2 separate regions of the Homo sapiens genome follow, and region 2 is linked to region 1. The links come from fine-mapping of genetic effects on gene expression. A gene starts in region 1. The other region holds a variant in brackets. All regions are shown on one strand. Distances are between the middles of the regions.

Region 1 (9,894 bases):
TACTTTTCCTTTCTTGTGGATTGAGATCAATTAGTGGAACACTCTGCTTCTCTCTGTCTCATTACTCATTACATCATGGAAAAGTTACTGACTAATCTTAGAGTCAATTTAATCTTAGAGTCAATTGGGAAATAATAAACTACATTCTTGACATAATTTCTTTTTCTTTTTGGAGAGTCTGAAGCCTCTATTGCTTTTTGTCGTATGTTGCACAATTTTCTTTCCGTGGGAGCAGAGGCTTGTAAAGGGATAGCAATACCTGCAGATGGAAAAGTAAGGCTTTCTAATTTAAAGGCAGGAGCCAATAGCAGAGGGTCTAGCTGCATGAGGAATGCACTATGTCCTTCAAACTCTGCTTTCTCATTAATAAAGGTGATACCTTGCTTCCATCTAATGATAAACTAGTTTATTTTTGAGAATTATTTCTTCTGCACCATCAAACACACACGGTAGGGAAAATTTCAGGATCTTGTGCAGAAGGAAAAGGGCCTTAAATGAGTCAAACCTTGTTATCTGGGATGGATGTACCCACCTATGGGACAGTAAGGAGAAGGAATACAGGGTGGCTAGGATTACGTGGGGTGTGATAATTCAGGACACTCTTTCCATCTTGAAATAACTCTGAGTCAGCATCAATTGTCTTTGTGTGCCAAGCTTAAATGAGGCAATGCTGAAAATGGGGCTGGCTTGTTCCATTTTTGTGTGTGTGTGTGTGTGTGTGTGTGTGTGACATCACCCCAAACTGCTGTTTAGTGAGAAACGAATCCTGAATTCATTAATGCTTTTTATTCTTGCAAGCATTTCCCTATGGATCAAGTCCTGGGGAAGTTAGAGACAGTCCCCATGAGGCAGTTAATGGTGGGATAGCCTGGGACTATACAATTTATACAATTTTGTGAATCATGCCAGTGAAAACATTCAAAAATGTATCAGCCACCCTTATCAATCAAGACCTTTTTGGCTCAATTTTAAACTTACTTAGAGCAACGAGAAACTTTGTCCACCTTTGAACATGTTGAACTTCAGCTGATTGAGGTCTCCCATATTTTTCTAAGACAAGCAACAGTATCACCTCTTTTGTTGTAAACGTATTTCTCTTAACCAAGCATCCCACTAAAACCTTTCTGTGTGTCACAGTACTGATGTGTTCTCTATGTGAAACAGAAGGAGCACTGGCGTTCTCCTGGACTGGAGTTCTAGTCTGGACAGGGATACGTACTACAATATCTTTAAATTAATTTCCTGGCATCTTTAAGCCTCAGGACTCTGTTATGTAAACTGAAACATCACTGTAGCTTCATTTTGGTGATTACAAACAAACAGCCAGACTACCACTCTGAAGCCACCCTACCCATGCTCAAGTCCTGGTTCTTCCTCTTATTAGCTCTGAAGACCTTACCCAAGTTAAATAACTACTCTATGTCTGAATCTCCTCATCAGTATAATGGACATATCAAGTGTATTCCTATATCATAATGTTGTTCTAATAATAGGTGAGTGAATAAATTTGAAGTTATTAGAGTCGTGCCTGACATAATTAGTGAAACACAAGTGTTGTTATAACAGATAAAACCCTCAAATCTTTTGTTTGGAATATGAAGACTCTGCATTAATGAATTAATCTGTTTCTCAACATCCACTGCATATGTACTCTAGGGCAGGGGTCTTCAACCCCCTGGGCCACAGACTTGTAACTATCCATGGCCCGTTAGGAACCAGGACGCAGACCAGGAGGTGAGTGGCAAGTGAGTGAGTGAAGTTTCATCTGTATTTCTGGCCGCTCCCTCTTACTCACATTATCGCCTGAACTCCATCTTCTGTTATATCTGCCAGCCATGACACTAGATTCTCATAGGCGCATGAATCCTATTGTGGACTGTGCATGTGAGGGATGTAGGTTGCGGGCTCCTCATGAGAATCTAATGCCTGATGATCTGTCATTGTTTCCCATTGGCCCCAGAGGGAACTGTCTAGTTGCAGGAAAGCACGCTCAGGGCTTCCAATGATGCCACATTATGGTGAGTTGTGTACTTATTTCATTATGTATTACAATGCAGTAATAATAGAAATAAAGTGCACCATAAATGTAACGTGCTTGAATTGTCTTGAAAACAGTCCCCCCATCCCAGTCTGTGGAAAAATTGTCTTCCACGTAACCGGTCCCTAGTACCAAAAAGGTTGGGAACTGCTGCCTTAAAGAACACAATATTTGCTAAACATCATGAGGTTGCCCATGTCTAATCCATTGTTTTATTTCTAGTATCTATCCATGCTCTCTATGTAAATATATATATATTGAGTTAGTGAATTAATCTATGCCACACTAAAATTTACCCTTGATTTCTGTCTTTGTCAGAGACATTTATATTCTGTGCCTTTATGTTCATAAATGTTATTTTCTGGGTGTTCCTCTCCTACTTCTTTCCCAATATAACTCTGACCTGTTCTTCAAGGTCTAGTTCAAATGTCATCTGTTTAATTAAGATGCTTTATCTGGAAAGGGCATCATTGTTCTGAAGTGAGAAAGAAATGAGCAGAACTGTAGCAACGCTTTCCAAAATTTTGCTGGAATAGAGCCCAGCAACATGGAACAGTGGCAACAGGAAAATAAAGATGGGGTTTGTGTTCATCCTGAGGAAGGTTTGGGGGGCTTTAGCCTTGCCCCTCAAATCTCCTTTTTTCCATCCAGAAATTTTTGTTTTTGTTGCACTTATTCTTTGATGGAAAAGCCTAACAGTTTCCTTATTGCAAGTAGAGATCATAAAAATATGTTTAGAATATTTTTCTAACTTTCATGTTTGTTCTGTAATTCACATTCTAAGTTACAATGATGTATTTCATATGCACGTAGAGCAACATGACAAGTTCTCCAAATCCTGGTCCAATCCAAATGCTTACTCTTCACTCCTCCTATAAGGAAATTGTAGAAGCACCATTGCTTGAAGATGGGGAAAAAAAAAAAGTTAACACAGGAGAACTGGCACTATGTTTATCTATGCATTAAAACAAGAAAATGTATTTGCTTTCACATTACCCCTTTGACTTTTTTGTCAGAAAAGCATTAAAATCGTCGTTGTATAAATAAATTAGAAATGGAGGCACAGAGGTTGCAACAATTAAAAATAAAATTAAAAAAAGTAACGAGTTGAGTGCAGGGCAAAATTCTGAAACCTACTCTAATTATTACAAACTTGGTCTTTTATTCATGGTATCTTAATGTTAATGGAAAGTAATCTGTATATTTTAATTCCATGGCCAAGATAAAAGTGTTGCAAGTCCTCATTATTAATAACCACTCATGAATATTATGACAAGATTTAGTTTTTTGCCCTGTAGTTATAGTTGAGCTTCCACATTCAAGCTGGCCTTTAATTTCTTAAACACCATTTTGGCTATGGAGAAAAATATCAGAAAATCAGAAAAAAAATACAGCCTTAAGGGAAAAAAGTATAATTATAGTATTAACTCACAAGAAAGCTTTGTGCTATTAATCTGGAATCTGGGCCTTTAGCGCACATATCCTTATCATAAATACCCTTTTACACAGATGAAAAGTGCAGAAAACTGAAATCTGAAAAAGTCAATTATTCCTAAGCATTCTCCAAAAGGGAGAAAAGCCAGTGCTTTACACCAACTGGCAACTTATATGAGTCTACAATTGAAACTTTTTCACCGTTTAAGTTCTAGAACAGTGGACCCCAATCTTTTTGGCACCAGGGACCAGTTTCATGGAAGACAATCTTTCCACAGACTTGTGGGTGCAGGAGGATGGTTTTGGGATTAAACTGTTCCACCTCAGCTCGTCAGACATTAGATTCTCATAAGGAGTGTGCAGCTTCTATCCCTCACATGCACAGTGGGGTTCACACTCCTATGAGAATCTAGTGCCCTGCTGCCATTGATGTGATGGGAGGCGGAGCTCAGGTGGTAATGCTCTGCCTGCCTGCCACTTACCTCCTCCTGGGCAGCCCAGTTCCTAACAGACCATAGCTCCATATCAGTCCATGGCTCAGGGGTTGGGGACTCCTGATCTAGAAGGTATGAGCATGATAATATCCTTTTGAATTCATTCATATACCGAAAGCATATTATATGGCAGCTACTGTTTCAAATACATGGCACAGGATCCCCCACATCCATGTCTTTTCTATATGATTCTAAACTCACTGAACAGACTTTTTGGCAGAGTGGCGGAGGCCTGCTCATCTGACTCCAAGGACTTCCCAGGGATTTTCAAAGTGGGCACAAGGACACAGAAGCAAGCCCTTTTCCAACAGTGGCAGCTACAGGGCAAGTGACTCAAGGGATGGCAGTCTTCATGTATCCCAGCTTTTCTGGAAAAGGAGAGCATAAAATGGACATTCAAAGTCAGCAAATACAAGAAATATGAAGACAACTCTCTGGTAGTTATGGAAGTACTGGGATCCTTCCAGTTTTTTTTCTTTTTAAATATTTCAATTTGTGTTTATGTCTCTTTAAATCAAAACATGCCTTATTTATGCAAGAGTCTGGTAGTAGGAAAGAAAAAGCACTGTATCTTGTAGTAAGTGCAATAACAGAGAAAAATCTAGGGCACTGTGGGAGTTTAGAAAATATTTCTCGACACCAGCATTGAGGAAAACAATATTTACTAGAGAGGTGTGCTAAGTTATTATTTTTGTTTTGTTTCTATGTGTATTTATTTGTTTCAACGTTTTGTAGAGAAAATCTGGAGTTGTGGGTGGCAAAGTATACAAGATAGGCATGCTAAGGGCTTTAGGAAGAGGAGGAAATTATCAAGATAAGCCAGAGTCAAGAAAATATGAAACACAAGAAAATTCATAGTGATTGACAATGGTAAGCAGAGGCTCATGTTGAAGAGTAAGAGGAAATAAGCCTTTAAGACACTGTATCTGAGTTCTTAGTTTTAAGCACTGTAGATAAGTATGTGCTGGATCAAGCAAAATGGCTCACTTCCTTGAAATATGGGGAAATAAATCTGTGTAAGGATGGCTGGTCCAGCTGGTTTCCTGCCAATTCTTGGATGGGTCATCCTAGTCCAGAGTATCATGGAAAATTGTTCACACAGCTTGACTGATTGCTTTAAGGGTTTACACTTGTCTCAACTCAGAAATCCAAGCTCTCCCAGGACTGTTCTAACGGCAGTTCTAAAAGCCTCTTTGGTGTGTTGGAGGCCAGGTAGAGGTGAAGCTTCGCAGTGCTTGGACGTATACTCAACCATACGGAGAATATCAGCCTGTAGCAGGTAAATAAGAGCCCAGCACAGAAGAAAAGGCAGAGCTACAAGAAGACAGTGCCACATTATTTTCATTGGAATCTATGTACGCATCTATGCCTGAGGTAAGATCCACCTCATCCTTCTGAAATACCGTATTTTGATCAATTTGGCTCCATGGGGCTTCTGTTACTTGCAATGTAAAACTATACCAATTATACTCTGAAGCTAGAAAGTGTTTCTCCTATTGGATAAGTGCAATTCATGTTATAAAATTGATTTCTGATTTAAGAGCTAGGAGACAACACACATAACGTGCACCTGCTTACGTTGTGTCATAGATGAGAAAATTGAGAAATAAAGCAGGTAAGTAGCTTTCCCCATACAAGTTGAATTGGTATCAGAGAAATCCCTTCATTAGCAATTGGTAGGTATTCTATTTCACAAGTGTATACATGTGCCATTAACTATGCATGATTGCATATGTACATATATATGCACACATGCAAGTATATAAAAGGCAAAATTGTGTACTGTATATGTTTGTTATATAGTATGTTCAGACACACATATATAAAACCTAATGTAATTAGTACTATCTATCGACAATGACTTACTTGACTTCAGAGTGGTTACTTTGTACAGTGAGAACAGAGTAAATATATGTGGACTTTGGAATCACTAGGTATAGCTCGTTGGCCTGAAATGACACCAGGGCAGAGAGGGGCTTATTTCAGGGTAGAAGATCCAAATATATCACTTTATCTATTGCTCGTTTCAATAATTTAAATGTTGTTATTTCTTTGTTTCTTTAGGTATATGTTTCCATTTTACTTTTAGGATGACACACCAAGGTCTAGGCAATTGCTTAAGCTCGTTACTCAGGATGCCGTATCACTGCTGGCTAGAATATTTCTTTGGCAAGTCTTGTTACCATGTCCACCAACTTTATATAGCATACTTCGTTCAGATTTGGAAGCACTGTTACTGTTTTTTTTCCTCATTTAAGCAGCTTATGATTAGGGAGGCTGACAAGAATTTAACATGAGTAAGCCTCTGGCAGTGAGAACAGAACTTCTTAACGCTCAGCAGTTAGCACCAAAGACATCAGCACTTGACAATGGAATTAAACTGTCCTTTGACAACAAGAGTTTATGATGACAATCTATCTAATTGTTCTTTCTCCCAAAAATATAGAAAACTGTCCTGTCCTAGCTGCACAAGGAAGGAATAAAGAATATAAAAATCTTATTATGCTTCATGCCCGTTAGAAAACATTTTTAAAAATTAAAAAATTAAAAATGAAGCTCAAGTAACATTTAAAACACTCCAAATCCAATTGAAAAATATTTAGAGAGGTTGAATTTTTCAAAAGCTATAGAGACTTGATCATATAGTAGAGGAAAGAACAATAATTTTAGAATGAAATAGTCCTAGAATAAAAAACAATAATAAATCCTGGTTTTATGATGTTTTTATAATTTATCAGCATAATTTTCTAAGCATCAGTCACACCTCACATGTCTTAGAGTAGGATTCAAAATTTTGAGGCCTAGCAATTATATCATAAAAACATACAATATATCATAGAAACATATGTATTGAAAAGGAATGGAGGTAAGGAAAGAGGGGATGTTACCAAGTTGGTCAGTATTTGGTGTCAAGCTCAACGTATAACTCAAAAGCATTCTCAGGCTCTTCCAGATGCATGTGACAACCTCTTAGAATTGAAAGATGGTTTAGGCATCATCTACTATAGTGTTTCTACAAAATCCATGTCTAATGTGCATTATTGCTGGGCAGTGACAGATCCAATTCAATAATTTTATCTTCTATTTTATCTTCTATGTGAAGAAACAAAAAAATGGTAAAATAAATTGTTCAAGGTCACATGAAGTTTTTTCTCAGAACCGGTTTTAAATTAGGTCACTCTCCAATCTAAAGCCATTTTTCCTTTTTTTTTTTTTTTTTTTTTGTCTGAAGCAACATCTTCCCAATTAATCACTCTCTGTTCTTCTTGGACTCCACGTAGTATTCTAAAGAGCAAGGAGCAAGAATGGCTCATCTATTTATTGGAGGACCCAGTCTAGTGCCAATCATAGAGTAAAACATAAAGTGACTATTGTAGGTTGAAATGTTTCCCTAGAAAGCCCTATGTTGAAGGCCCCTAATACTTCAAAATGTGCCTTAATTAGGAAGTAAGGTCACTGAAGATATAATTAGGTAGGTTAAGAAGAGGCCATTCTAGAGTACAATGGGACCCTAATCTACTGTGACTGGTATTCTCATGTAAAAAGGAAATTTGGACATGAAGGTACACACATACACACAGAACACCATATGAAGATAAAGGCAGAAATAAGAATGATGCTTCTAAACAACCAGGAATACCTAAGATGGCTAGACAATTACCGAAAACTATGCAACGGCCATGGAATGGAATGTTATTCTGCCATATAAAAGCCGAACATTATAGAATATGTGACCACATGATGAACCTTGAGGGAATCAAGCTAACTGAAATAATATAGTCACAGAATAAGTGCTGTATGATCTCACTTACAAGTGGAATATAACAAAATCAAATTCATACAGGCAGATAGTAGAATGGTGGTTACCAGCCACGGATGGGGAGCAGGGGAAATGAGGAGTGGTAGGTCTGAGGATACAAACTTGCACTTATGTAGGGTGAATAAGTCTAGAGGTCTAAAGCATAGCAGAAGAATTATAGTTAATAATATTGTATTGCATGTTAGAAATTTACTAACAGTAGATTTCAGACACTTATATCACACATACACACAAAAAGAGAAGAGTAACTATGTAAACAGATGGATACGTTAGCATGATTCACTGTGGTAATCATTTCAGTATGTATATGGATATTAGAACATACAGCTGAAACATATACAACTAAACAGCGCATAACACACATAAGAAAAATAAGCATAGTTATATCTATCTGTATATTTTTTATACAAAGACGTCATTGGGCATGAAACCACATAGAAATCATGACAATAAGAGCACAATACACATAGATTAGTTGACTCTAGTTTTCTCATCTCTCCCTAAATTTGTATAATAACATTTTACTTTCAAATTTGTTTTAGTGGTTAAAAAAAAGTACACATGCAACATGCTTGACACTAGGAGAGTTATCAGAAATGGATAGCCTCTCAAATTCTGTCAATTTTGAAATGGAAAGGTGGTTCTGATCTTATTTGTGTGAATCTGGAAGCATCAGAATACTTCACATTCAATTTTTTTAGTTAGTTAGTTACTCCCAATTTGATAAAATGAGTTCATAGCATTTTGGGGAATGAGCTTACAGCCTTGACAACAGAGCGTCCAGGGAGAAATGCCCTCTAGTGGACGTTTTATCCCCACTCGGAGGATACCTGGGAGGATCTCTTAAGTGTCTCATTTTTTTCTCTAACACATTTTACAAGTTAAAAAATACATATATTTTCAGAACAGTCATTAATACATTAATTTACTTCTTGAAATTTACTATCTTCAGATAGATTAGATAGTGTTTTGATGAAATTATCTAAAACAAATTCTGGTAAAATACAGACTAGTAACTCATACATCTTGATTTTATCGCTGATTCTAAGGGTGACCTTCGGCAAAACCTGGTTTCTTCATATTTTTTTCCCCTACCTGAAACATGAGACCTCAAAATACCTGACATCAAGTAATCTAGCTGGAGAAATATCAACTTTGTGTCTAATCATATTACACTTGACTGTAAAGAGAAAATAAGAAGTCCCTTCTGTAATATTTACCTAGGTATATCATATACATGTAGTTTCAATAAGCAGAATAAATGTTGGATATATTAAATAGTCTAATGCAAAAATCCTGATTTGAAAGCAAGACTCCTTTTGTATATAATGTCATGTTTTATATTTCAGGGGAAAAAGAATAAAGATTTGAGAATCAAATTTTACCCTGGGGAGTCCCTGATATAATTCTAGTTTTCCCACTTCAGAAGATTAATCTTGAAAAACATAGGGAAAGAAAAAAATGTGTAAAGATGGCTTTAAATGTTTCAAAATAAGAATTTAGCTACAAGGACTGGCCTACAATTTGTTATTCAGAGTGCAAAAGAAGATATTTATGAGTTTAGAATATATTCCATATTTATAACATTTGTATATTTGTTATTTTATTCTTATTTCTATTTTGATTTACTTTTATCTTATATATAATATATGGTACCTATATATAACTTAGAAGAGTGAAAAAATATATAAAATATTTTGGTATGCATGCTTTAAATCTGATAGTTAAACACGATCATTGAGTCTTTCAAGCCCAGAAATAAATTTATACATTATACATACAGTCAATTGATCACCAATAAGGATGCCAAAAACACAAAATAGTGAAAGGAGAACATTTTCAACAAATTGTTTTGGAAAAACTAGGTACCCCCATACAAGAGAATGGAATTGGGCCCTTCACATACACAAAAATCTACTTAAAATGGATTAAAGACAAACATAAGACCTTAAATTATAAAACTACTGAAAAAACAATAGGGAAAAAACTATATGACATTGGTCTGGGCAATGCTTTTTTGGAATTGACCCCAAAAGCTCAGCCAACAAAAAACAAAAATAGACAAATGGAAATTCATCAAACTAAACTAAAAAGCTTCTGCACAGCAA
Region 2 (9,894 bases), 41 kb before region 1:
AACATAAAATTAACCATTGTATTTTATTATTTGCTTTTTATTTATTACTAACTTGGGGGGAAGAAGTTCAGAATATTTTTGATAATAATTGTATAAATTTATGGATATCATGTTTCAGTACATGTATATATTGCAAAATGATCAAATTGGCTAATTAGCATACTCATGACCTCAAAAAGTTATTATTTCTGTTTGTTGAGAACCTTTAAAATTCTCTCTTTTAGCTATTTCGAAAAATTCAAACACTGCTATTAATTATCATTACTGGGCTGTGCAATAAAACACCAGGGTATATAACTCATCAGCATTCAGCACATCCACAATATTGTGCAACCACCACCTCTGTCAGCTTGCAAAACATTTTCTTCACTCCAAAAGAAAAACTTATACCCATTAAGCAGTCACATGCCATTCCTCACCCCCACTTCTAGCCCCTGGCAACCACCCATCTGCTCTCTCTCTCTCTCTGTGGATTTTCGTATTCTGGAAATCATACAAATGAAATCATACAATCTGTGGCTTTTTGTGTTTGGCTTTTCCACTTAGCATAATGTGCCTAAGGTATATCCATGTATAGCATGTTTCCATACCTCATATCCTTTAATGGCTTAATAATATTCCATTGTTTGTACTTATCACATTTTGTTCACCCATTTATTTGTTGATGAACATTTGGGCAGTTTCCACTTTTTAGATATTGTAGGTAGTGCTGCTATGAACATTTTATGTACACGTATTTGAGTATCTGTCTTTCAATATACTAAGTTTCCTACAGGATCTTTTTTTTTTTTTTTTTTTTTTTTGAGACAGTCTCCCTCTGTTGCCAGGCTGGAATGCAGTGGCCCGACCTCGGCTCACTGCAACCTCCGCATCCCAGGTTATAGCAATTCTTCTGCCTCAGCCTCCCAAGTAGCTGTATGAACCTTCACACTTTATTAGATTACCTACCACCTACTACTTTATTATGTGAAGCTTGTTTTCCTCAAAATCTTTGCAGGTATTTCCAAGGGAGTCTCTAAACACTAAGCAGAGAAGTGCCTTGTCAAGCTTGAGAGAGGGATTTCCATATTTCCTGTTACTGTTAGTGATACCGTTGTTATTAATATGTTTTATATCTGTCTGTCAATTATGTGTCATGTGTTTTGAATTATGTAAGAAGGATTTTACAGCAGCACATATAACAATAGGAGGGTTATAACAAGCTGCTCTTATTCTGCAGCTGATTTGTTATTTAAACTGAGTGCAGTGGAAAAAATTGCTTGTATTTTTCCTCTTAGTTTTATGTTTCCCTTGCATTCTTACAGCACCAAAAGGTTTCTTTGTAACATAAGACTATTCTAAAGAAGAAAAATAGCCATAATATTTAAACTTACATGAAAATACTTTATTTTGAAGCTGTCTTACGATACATTTTCATAATGGTTAAAAACTGTTTGGTATTTTACGTGGGACATAGGAAAACAATTAGTAATTTTTCTACATCCTAGGCACAAGGGCCTGTTTTTAAATTTTTATTCTCTAGTTTGAATATGAAGTCAAGATTTGGAAGGAAACAGGGCTGAATCTTATGACTACAGATTCAGGACTTCGAAAACAGGTGTTCATCAAGCTGAAAAGAAAAAAATAAAAGAAAAGATATAGTCAAGCTTTTCATAGAACCTGTAGAAAAACCAAGGTTTGTATTTCAGTCGTCTTTACAAAAACAATGAGTTATGTTTCAGAACACTTTCTTCATTTGTTGGAGTATAAAAATAGAGAAAAAGGATGGAAGGGTGTCTTAGATCTGTCTTTTTAGAGGGTTCTACTGCTGAAGCTAAGATGGGGTAAACATTTTAAGTCTGGATGAATAATTATTTGCATATTTTAATGGCCTTGCCAAGTAGAATCTTCATAGATTTGGGTGATGGATGCGTATTTAATTAGCAAACTGAATGTGTTCAAGATAGTAAATCTTCTGGCCCAGGACCATTCCTGTTTTCTCTGCTTTTAATGAGTATTCTATGAAATAAATGAGTTAGATGAGTATTCTATGAAATAAATGAGTTAAATGAGTTAGATGATAAAATACATTTATCTCAAAAACACTGAGGGGACATGGCCACATTTCCATCTTTCAGCTTCTGTTTTCCAGTCACCTGCATCTGAGGGTGTGGATAAACTTCACCTCAGGGCCATCTAGTTTCTATACAAGCCCTCATTCGTCCTTGAAGAGAATTCAGAACAGCACAACCTAACATTTGGGTCCTGTGAATTGTTTGGCTTCTTAACTGTCCTTGACTCTCCTACTTTGGTTTAGAATGCTAATTTTATTTTAGATCCCTCTAGAAGGTGGCAGATACAGCTTGGAGACCTCTCCAGATCTGATGAGAAGGGTAGTTACTTCATCTTGATACAGGAGGCATACGTACTTAGCCACTCTTTCTCAGTCTGTGAAACATATATTGCCTTTGGTACATCACTTCAAAGTTAATTATCAGTTGTTTGAAGGTTAAGTTTATTATAATCTTCTAGTGGCTATGACGTAGGTATATGGCATTATGCTGCCCACCGCCCTCCACCGAAGGTGGTCTGGAGTAGAAGCTAAATTAGAACAAGCTCACTCACCAAGCTGTTAAATAATTTTTAAATATAACCAGTAGCTTTGGAGTTTCTTTCTGTTTTCCTTTTAGGACTAGAATGCCTCCCTACTTAACTCACATGAATTCTTTTGTGCTTCTGTTATGTCCTTATCTCTTAATTCTCCTTGAATGTTTTGTATTCTGTCATATCTCCAACCCTAATCACTGTAACCACTACTCCATATACTTCCTATTCACTTAGATCTTGACATTCTGTCTTGTCAATATCACTGTTATTTCCCACCTAGTACCACCTAATTTAAGGTGTCCTGTCCTAGGCTTCACGAGTGATAATAAGTGCAAGGCTGTTTAGACTAGCTCAGGGTTGTCACAGGCCCTGTGCCATGACCTGTTCAGAATATTCACTTGTCCCTGGCTTTTTGAGATTCTAGCTTGGTTTTGTGTGTTTGCCCTTCTTATGACAGGTTTGCTTCTCCAGTCATTGTGAAAGTCAGCCCTGATTATTTGACTTGTTCCTCAAATGTTGGTTCTTCTGTTAATTCTCCCACTATAGCTTCACATTTAGAAAGTCAGTGTTTCCAATCTCATTCCTACTGAAGATCAAAACAGATCCCTTTATTTAGTCCTCGATACCTCAATGCTATGCCTGTTGCAGAAGAGGGATTATTTCCAGTGCAAGTGCTTCTTGTTGCTTCTAGTCTCCTCTTCTTCACTCTCCTCTCTCTTTTCTATCTCCTTATATGTCCTTGATATAGATTGATGGATTATTAATGAATAAACAAAAACAAACACACAAACAAATTTCATGCACATCCCTATGAAGAGACTACCAAATAGGCTTTGTGTGAGCAATAAAGCTTTTAATCACCTGGGGGCAGGCAGGCTGAGTCCGAAAAGAGAGTCAGCAAATGGAGATAAGGGTGGGGCCATTTTATAGGATTTGGGTAGATAAAGGAAAATTACAATCAAAGGGGGGTTGCTCTCTGGCGGGCAGAGTGGGGAATCACAAGGTGCTCAGTAGGGGAGCTTTTGAGCCAGGATAAGCCAGGAGAAGGAATTTCACAAGACAATGTCATCAGTTAAGGCAGGAACAGGCCATCTGGTTGCGCACATGCAGGTCACAGGGGTTATGATGGCTTAGCTTGGGCTCAGAGGCCTGATATTCCTGTCTTCTTATATTAATAAGAAAAATAAAATGAAATAGTGGTAAAGTGTTGGGACGGTGAAAATTTTTGGGGGTGGTATGGAGAGATAATGGGCGATGTTTCTCAGGGCTGCTTCGAGTGGGATGAGGGGCGGCATGGGAACCTAGAGTGGGAGAGATTAAGCTGAAGGAAGATTTTGTGGTAAGGGGTGATACTGTGGGGTTGTTAGAAGAAACATTTGTTGTGTAGAATTATTGGTGATGGCCTGGATATGGTTTTGTATGAATTGAAAAACTAAATGGAATAAGAGAAGGAGAAAAACAGGTATAAAAGGTCTAAGAATTGGGAGGACCTAGGACATCTGATTAGAGAGTGCCTAAGGAGATTCAGCATAGTCCTGCCAGCAAAGATTATTTATTTACTTCAAGAGTTTAGAGCAGCAGTTTGGGGATAGCACCAGGAGATATCAGCTGTGAAGGCTTGGAGAAACAGTATAAACCGGCAGTGTAAACAAGATCAGGGCATGTATGAGTAGTTGAGAACAGTGAATAGGAGTATGACTAGACAGAAGATAGTAGGGATGACAAGATTTTGGGGGGGCACAGTCTAAGTTGGTCTGGTGTCTGGAATGAGACTAGGGCCTAATAAAAAGGAGCGTCTATACAGGAGCTTAAATGGGCTGTACCTTGTAGCATTCTGAGGACAGGCCTGAATTCTGAGAAGCGAAAGTGGTAAAAGTATTGTCCAGTCCTTTTTAAGTCGGTGACTGAGCTTCGTGAGGTGTGTTTTTAAAAGACTATTAGTCTGTTCTACCTTTCCTGAAGACTGAGGACTGTAAGGGATATAAAGGTTCCACTGAATACTAAGAGCCTGAAAAACTGCTTGGCTGATTTGACTAATAAAGGCTGGTCTGTTATTAGACTGTATAGAGGTGGGAAGGCTAAATTGAGGAATTATGTCTGACAGAAGGGAAGAAATGACTGCGGTGGCCTTCTCAGACCCTGTAGGAAAGGCCTCTACCTATCCAGTGAAAGTGTCTACTTAGAATAAGAGGTATTTTAGTTATCTGACTCATGGCATGTTGAGTAAAGCTAATTTGCCAGTCCTGGGTCAGGGCAAATCCTCGAGCTTGATGTGTAGGGAAGGGAGAGGGCCTGAATAATCCCTGAGGAGTAGTAGAATAGCAGATGGAACACTGAGAAGTTATTTCCTTGAGGATAGATTTCCACAATGAAAAGGAGATGAGAGGTTCTAAGAGGCGGGCTAGTGGCTTGTACTATAGCATAGCCTGCCTTTGATGGTGTGTGGCAATTAGGCCTAGTGGAACTGCCATCAATAAATTAAGCGTGATCAGGGTGAGGAACAGGAAAGAAGGAAATATGGGTAAATGGGGTGAATGTCAGATGGATCAGAGAGATACAGTCATGGGGGTCAGGTGTGGTATCAGGAATAATGTGGGAGGCTGGATTGAAGTCCAGGCCAAGAACAATGGTAATTGTGGGAGACTCAACAAAGAGTGAGTACAGCTGAAAGAGCCAGGGAGCAGAAAGTATATGCATCAGGTATGAGGAAGAAAATAGATTTTGGAAGTTATGAGAAATGTAGAGAGTGAGTTGAGCATAGCTTGTGATTTTTAGGGCCTCTAAAAGTATTAAAACAGCGGCAGCTGCTGCACACAGACATGAGGGCTAGGCTAAAACAGTGAGGTCAAGTTGTTTGGACAGAAAGGCTACAGGGTGCAGTCCTGGCTCTTGTGTAAGAATTCTGACCACGCTAACCATGCCTAGGAAGGAAAGGAGTCATTGTTTTGTAAGGGATTCAGGTTTGGGAGATTAATTGGACACAATCAGCAGGGAGAGCACGTGTGCTTTTATGAGAATTATGCCAAGATA[C/G]GTAACAGATGAGGATGAAATTTGGGCTTGACTGAAGTAACGGGGGCTGTCTGTGAAGCTTTGCGGCTTTATAGCCCAGGTAATTTGCTGAGCTTAATGGGTGTCAGGGTCAGTCCAAGTGAAAGCAAAGAGAGGCTGGGATGAAGGGTGCAAAGGAATAGTAAAGAAAGCATGTTTGAGATCTAGAATGGAATAATGGGTTGTAGAAGGAGGTATTGAGGATAGGAGAGTATATGGGTTTGACACCGTGGGGTGGATAGGCAAAACAATTTGATTGATAAAGCGCAGATCCTGAACTAACCTGTAAGTCTTGTCTGGTTTTAGGACAAGTAAAATGGGGGAATTGTAAGGAGAGTTTATAGGTTTTAGAAGCCTGTGCTGTAGCAGGTGAGTGATAACAGGCTTTAATCCTTTTAAAGCATGCTGTAGGATAGGATATTGGCATTGAGTGGGGTAAGAGTGATTAGGTTTTAATGGGATGGTAAGGGGTGCAAGATCGGTTGCTAAGGAGGGAGTAGAGATATCTTATACTTGTGGGTTAAGGTGGGGAGATACAAGGGGAGGATGTGAAGGAGGCTTTGAACTGGGGGAAAAGGTGGCAATGCAGTGCGGCTGTAGCCCAGGAATAGTCAGGGAAGCACATAATTTAGTTAAAGTGTCTCAGCCTAATAAGGGAACTGGGCAGGTAGGGATAACTAAAAAGGAGTGCTTAGAAGAGTATTGTCTAAGTTGGCACCAGAGTTGGGGAGCTTTAAGAGGTTTAGAAGCTTGGCCGTCAATACTTAACAACAGTTATGGAGGCAAGGGAAACAGGTCCTTGAAAAGAAGGTAATGTGGAGTGGGCAGCCTCCGTATTGATTAAGAAGGGGATGGACTTACCCTCCACTGTGAGAGTTACTTAAAGCTCGGCATCCTTGATGGTCTACGGGGCTTCCGAAGCGATGGGGCAGCATCAGTCTTCAGCTGCTAAGCTGAGATGATCTGGGAAGGAGTCAGTCAAAGAGCCTCGGGCCAGAGTTCCAGGGGCTCTGGGAATGGCTGCCAGGTGAGTTGAACAGTGTGATTTTCAGTGGGGTCCTGCACAGACGAGAGGAGGCTTAGGAGGAATCCTGGGCTGCAGGCATTCCTTGGCCTGGTGGCCAGATTTCTGGCACTTGTAGCAAGCTCCTGGGGGAGGCGGCTCTGGAGGGACGCCTGGCTGCTGCGGTTCAGGTGTTTGGAAGTTCTTGTGTGCTGGAGATGTGGCTGGGGTTTGTCTCACAGTGGAGGCAAGGAATTGCAACTCAGAAATACACTGTTACTTGGCTGCCTCTACTCTATTATTGTACACCTTGAAGGCGAGGTTAATTAAGTCCTGTTGTGGGGTTTGAGGGCTGGAATTTAATTTTTGGAGTTTTATTTAATGTCGAGAGCAGATTGGGTAATATAATGTATATTGAGAATAAGACGGCCTTTTGACCTTTTAGGGTCTAGGGCTGTAAAGCATCTCAGGGTTGCTGCCAAATGAGCCATGAACTGGGCTGGATTTTTATATTTGATGAAAAAGAGGCTGAACGCTATCTGATTTGGGATAAAGAAAAAGGAGCATTAACTTTGACTATGCCTTTAGCTCCAGCCACCTTTTTAAGAGCAAATTGCTGGGCATGTGGGGGAGGGCTAGTCGCGGAATGAAACTGTAAGCCTGACTGGGTGTGAGGAGGGGAGGTGATAAAAGGATTATAGGGTGGAGGAGCGGAGGCTGAGGAAGAATTGGGACCTAGCTCGGCCGGGCGAGGAGGGGAGAGGTCAGATGAGTCTATAGAAAAGGAAGATTAGAAAGACTCATTGACACTTGGGGTTGGGACTGAGGGGACAGGTGGGAGGGAAAGAAGGAAGATATGGGATGAGTTGCACTGGGCACAGAGACTAGGGAGGGACTGATGTGTAAAAGAATGCCTGGAGGTCAGGCACCTCAGACTGTTTGCCTATTTTACAACAAGAGTTATTTAGATCTTGCAGGATGGAAAAATTGAAAGTGCCGTTTTCTGGCTATTTGGAACCACTGTCAAGTTTGTATTCGTGTCAAGCAGCATTGCAGAAGAAAATAAGGCATTTAGATTTTATGTCAGGTGTGAGTTGAAGAGGTTTTAAGTTCTCGAGAGCACAGGCTAAGGGAGAAGAAGGAGGAATGGAGGGTGGAAGGTTGCCTATAGTGAAGGAGGGAAGCCCAGAGAAAAGAGAGAGTAGAGACACAGAGGGAAGGGGTTCGGGGGTTCTTACCATCCAGAAAAGCAGGAAAGGGGTTGGGGCACGGAAATAAGGGGTAGAGGCACAGAGATAAGAGTTCAGGGCATGGAAATAAGGGATTGGGGATTCTTGCCCCCTAGAAAAGCGGGACTTGCTGCTAAGGGTGAAGGAGAAGGGGTTGAGGGGTTCTTGCCTGTCCTTCAGAAAAGCAGAGAAGGGGTAGAGACATGGAGAGAAGGGGTTGGGGTACTTGCCCCTCCTCCAGAAAAGCAGGACTTGCCACTAAGGGTGAATGACCAAGGCAGGCGGTCCCTGCGTGGTCTGACACCTCTGAAATGTGGGTGAATAATCAGAGAGGCATCCCTGCAATGATTAAACATCAAGGGTAGGCTGCCTTCCCAGTCCGTGACCGGTGCCGGAGTTTTGGGTCCACGGATAAAACGTGTCTCCTTTGTCTCTACTAGAAAATGAAAGGAATTGAAATGAAGAGAAGGGAGAGATTGAAGTGTGGCTCCAAGATTGAAAGGAGAAAGAGGTTGAGGGATAGTGAGGGAGGTTGGAGAAGAGAGTAAAAAGAGGCCGCTTACAGGATTTGAAATTGGTGAGACGTTTCTTGGGCTGGTCAATCTGAGGACCTGAGGTTGTAGGTGGATCTTTCTCATGGAGCAAAGAGCAGGAGCACAGGGGATTGATCTCCCAAGGGAGGTCCCCCGATCCGAGTCACGGCACCAAATTTCATGCGCGTCAGTGTGAAGAGACTACCAAACAGGCTTTGTGTGAGCAATAAAACTTTTAATCACCTGGGTGCAGGCAGGCTGAGTCCGAAAAGAGAGTCAGCGAAGGGAGATAAGGATGGGGCCGTTTTATAGGATTTGGGTAGATAAAGGAGAATTGCAGTCAAAGGGGGTTTGCTCTCTGGCGGGCAGAGTCGGGGTCACAAGGTGCTCAGTAGGGGAGCTTTTGAGCCAGGATGAGCCTGGAGAAGGAATTTCACAAGATAATGTCATCAGTTAAGGCAGGAACAGGCCATTTTCACTTCTTTTGTGGTGGAATGTCATCAGTTAAGGCAGGAACAGGCCATTTTCACTTCTTTTGTGGTGGAATGTCATCAGTTAAGGCAGGAACCGGCCATCTGGATGTGTACATGCAGGTCACAGGGGATATGAAGGCTTAGCTTAGGCTCAGAGGCCTGACACAAATTAACACATAAATAAAAGTATAATTTCTGCCATTGTGAGTTCTTTAGGGGACTCACAGTCTAGCAGGGAGAGATGACATTAATGAAATTCAACAAGCACTAAGGCCACAAACAAAACACCCCATATGTGGAAAACATAGTGGTAGGCATAGTTTGTGTGGGAAGATGAGGCTAAGGAGAGCATAGAAATAGTTCTAACACACCCTGCTATTGAATTGCCACCTAGTGGGGAGAATACAGATAATGCATGGCAGCTTAGAGCAATGTGTTAGAAATTTAAATGTGATTGCAACAGGCAGTGAATAAGGAAGTCAGTTTACTGGGGTACTTGAAAAATATTTCATGAACAAGATATTTAAGCTCAAACTGGAAGGACGAATAGAGTTTTATTTACCAGAGAAATGGGAGAATATTACAGGATTGATTTCATTAAGCAAAATGTTGTAAAAGCATCTTATTGTCATAGGTGTTTAAAACTTATTAATTCACCTGGAAAAAGTAGATATTTTGATTAAATGGAATAAAGTATGCAGTTTTGTTTAAGTTTATGGGTCAAAGATAATTGTTACAGTTTTTCACAGTTATCAGCAAAGTCTTTAGTCATCCATAAACATCAGCCAACTGAAGTACAGCAGTGATAACCTTGAGGAAATTAGCATGATTCATTAGGAATTAAGAGGCTTGGGTTAATAAGAAAATTTTTATAAGATGGGTGGGGACAGATTTTACTGTTGAATCAAGATCTACCATTGCTACCTAAATGCTATGTGACTGGCTTTTTGACAACAAACTTAGGGAGAAAATATGATGATGTCTCATTTACAGATGAGAAAAGCAAAATAAAAGAAGACAAG

Which allele goes with the higher level. Positions count from the first base shown, and alleles are read on the strand shown. Sizes are in standard deviations (SD) of each study's normalised expression.
For the expression in tibial nerve of the gene that starts at base 5,175 in region 1, G is the low allele of the variant in region 2 and C is the other (large effect, 1.6 SD a copy in GTEx).

Evidence for each region. PIP is the estimated chance that this variant, and not a neighbour inherited with it, causes the effect.
Region 2: its variant is fine-mapped to the expression of LINC02360 in tibial nerve (GTEx, PIP above 0.99). The same link has a PIP of 0.9 or more in aorta, atrial appendage, esophagus muscle, gastroesophageal junction, lung and thyroid.

The regions. Positions count from the first base shown.
Region 1 is chr4:11,764,749-11,774,642 of GRCh38, reverse strand. LINC02360 (long intergenic non-protein coding RNA 2360) reads left to right here and starts at 5,175. Exons shown (of 4, transcript NR_146995.1): 1 at 5,175-5,340. It overlaps LOC107986178 (a long non-coding RNA gene), which reads right to left. Exons shown (of 5, transcript NR_188483.1): 3 at 4,168-4,334; 4 at 3,955-4,031; 5 at 768-2,938.
Region 2 is chr4:11,805,427-11,815,320 of GRCh38, reverse strand. No RefSeq gene overlaps it. Among named protein-coding and RNA genes, the nearest start is that of MIR12113, 27 kb to the right of the region's middle. RefSeq lists an enhancer at 8,616-9,245. The variant C/G (reference allele first, on the strand shown) is at 5,617.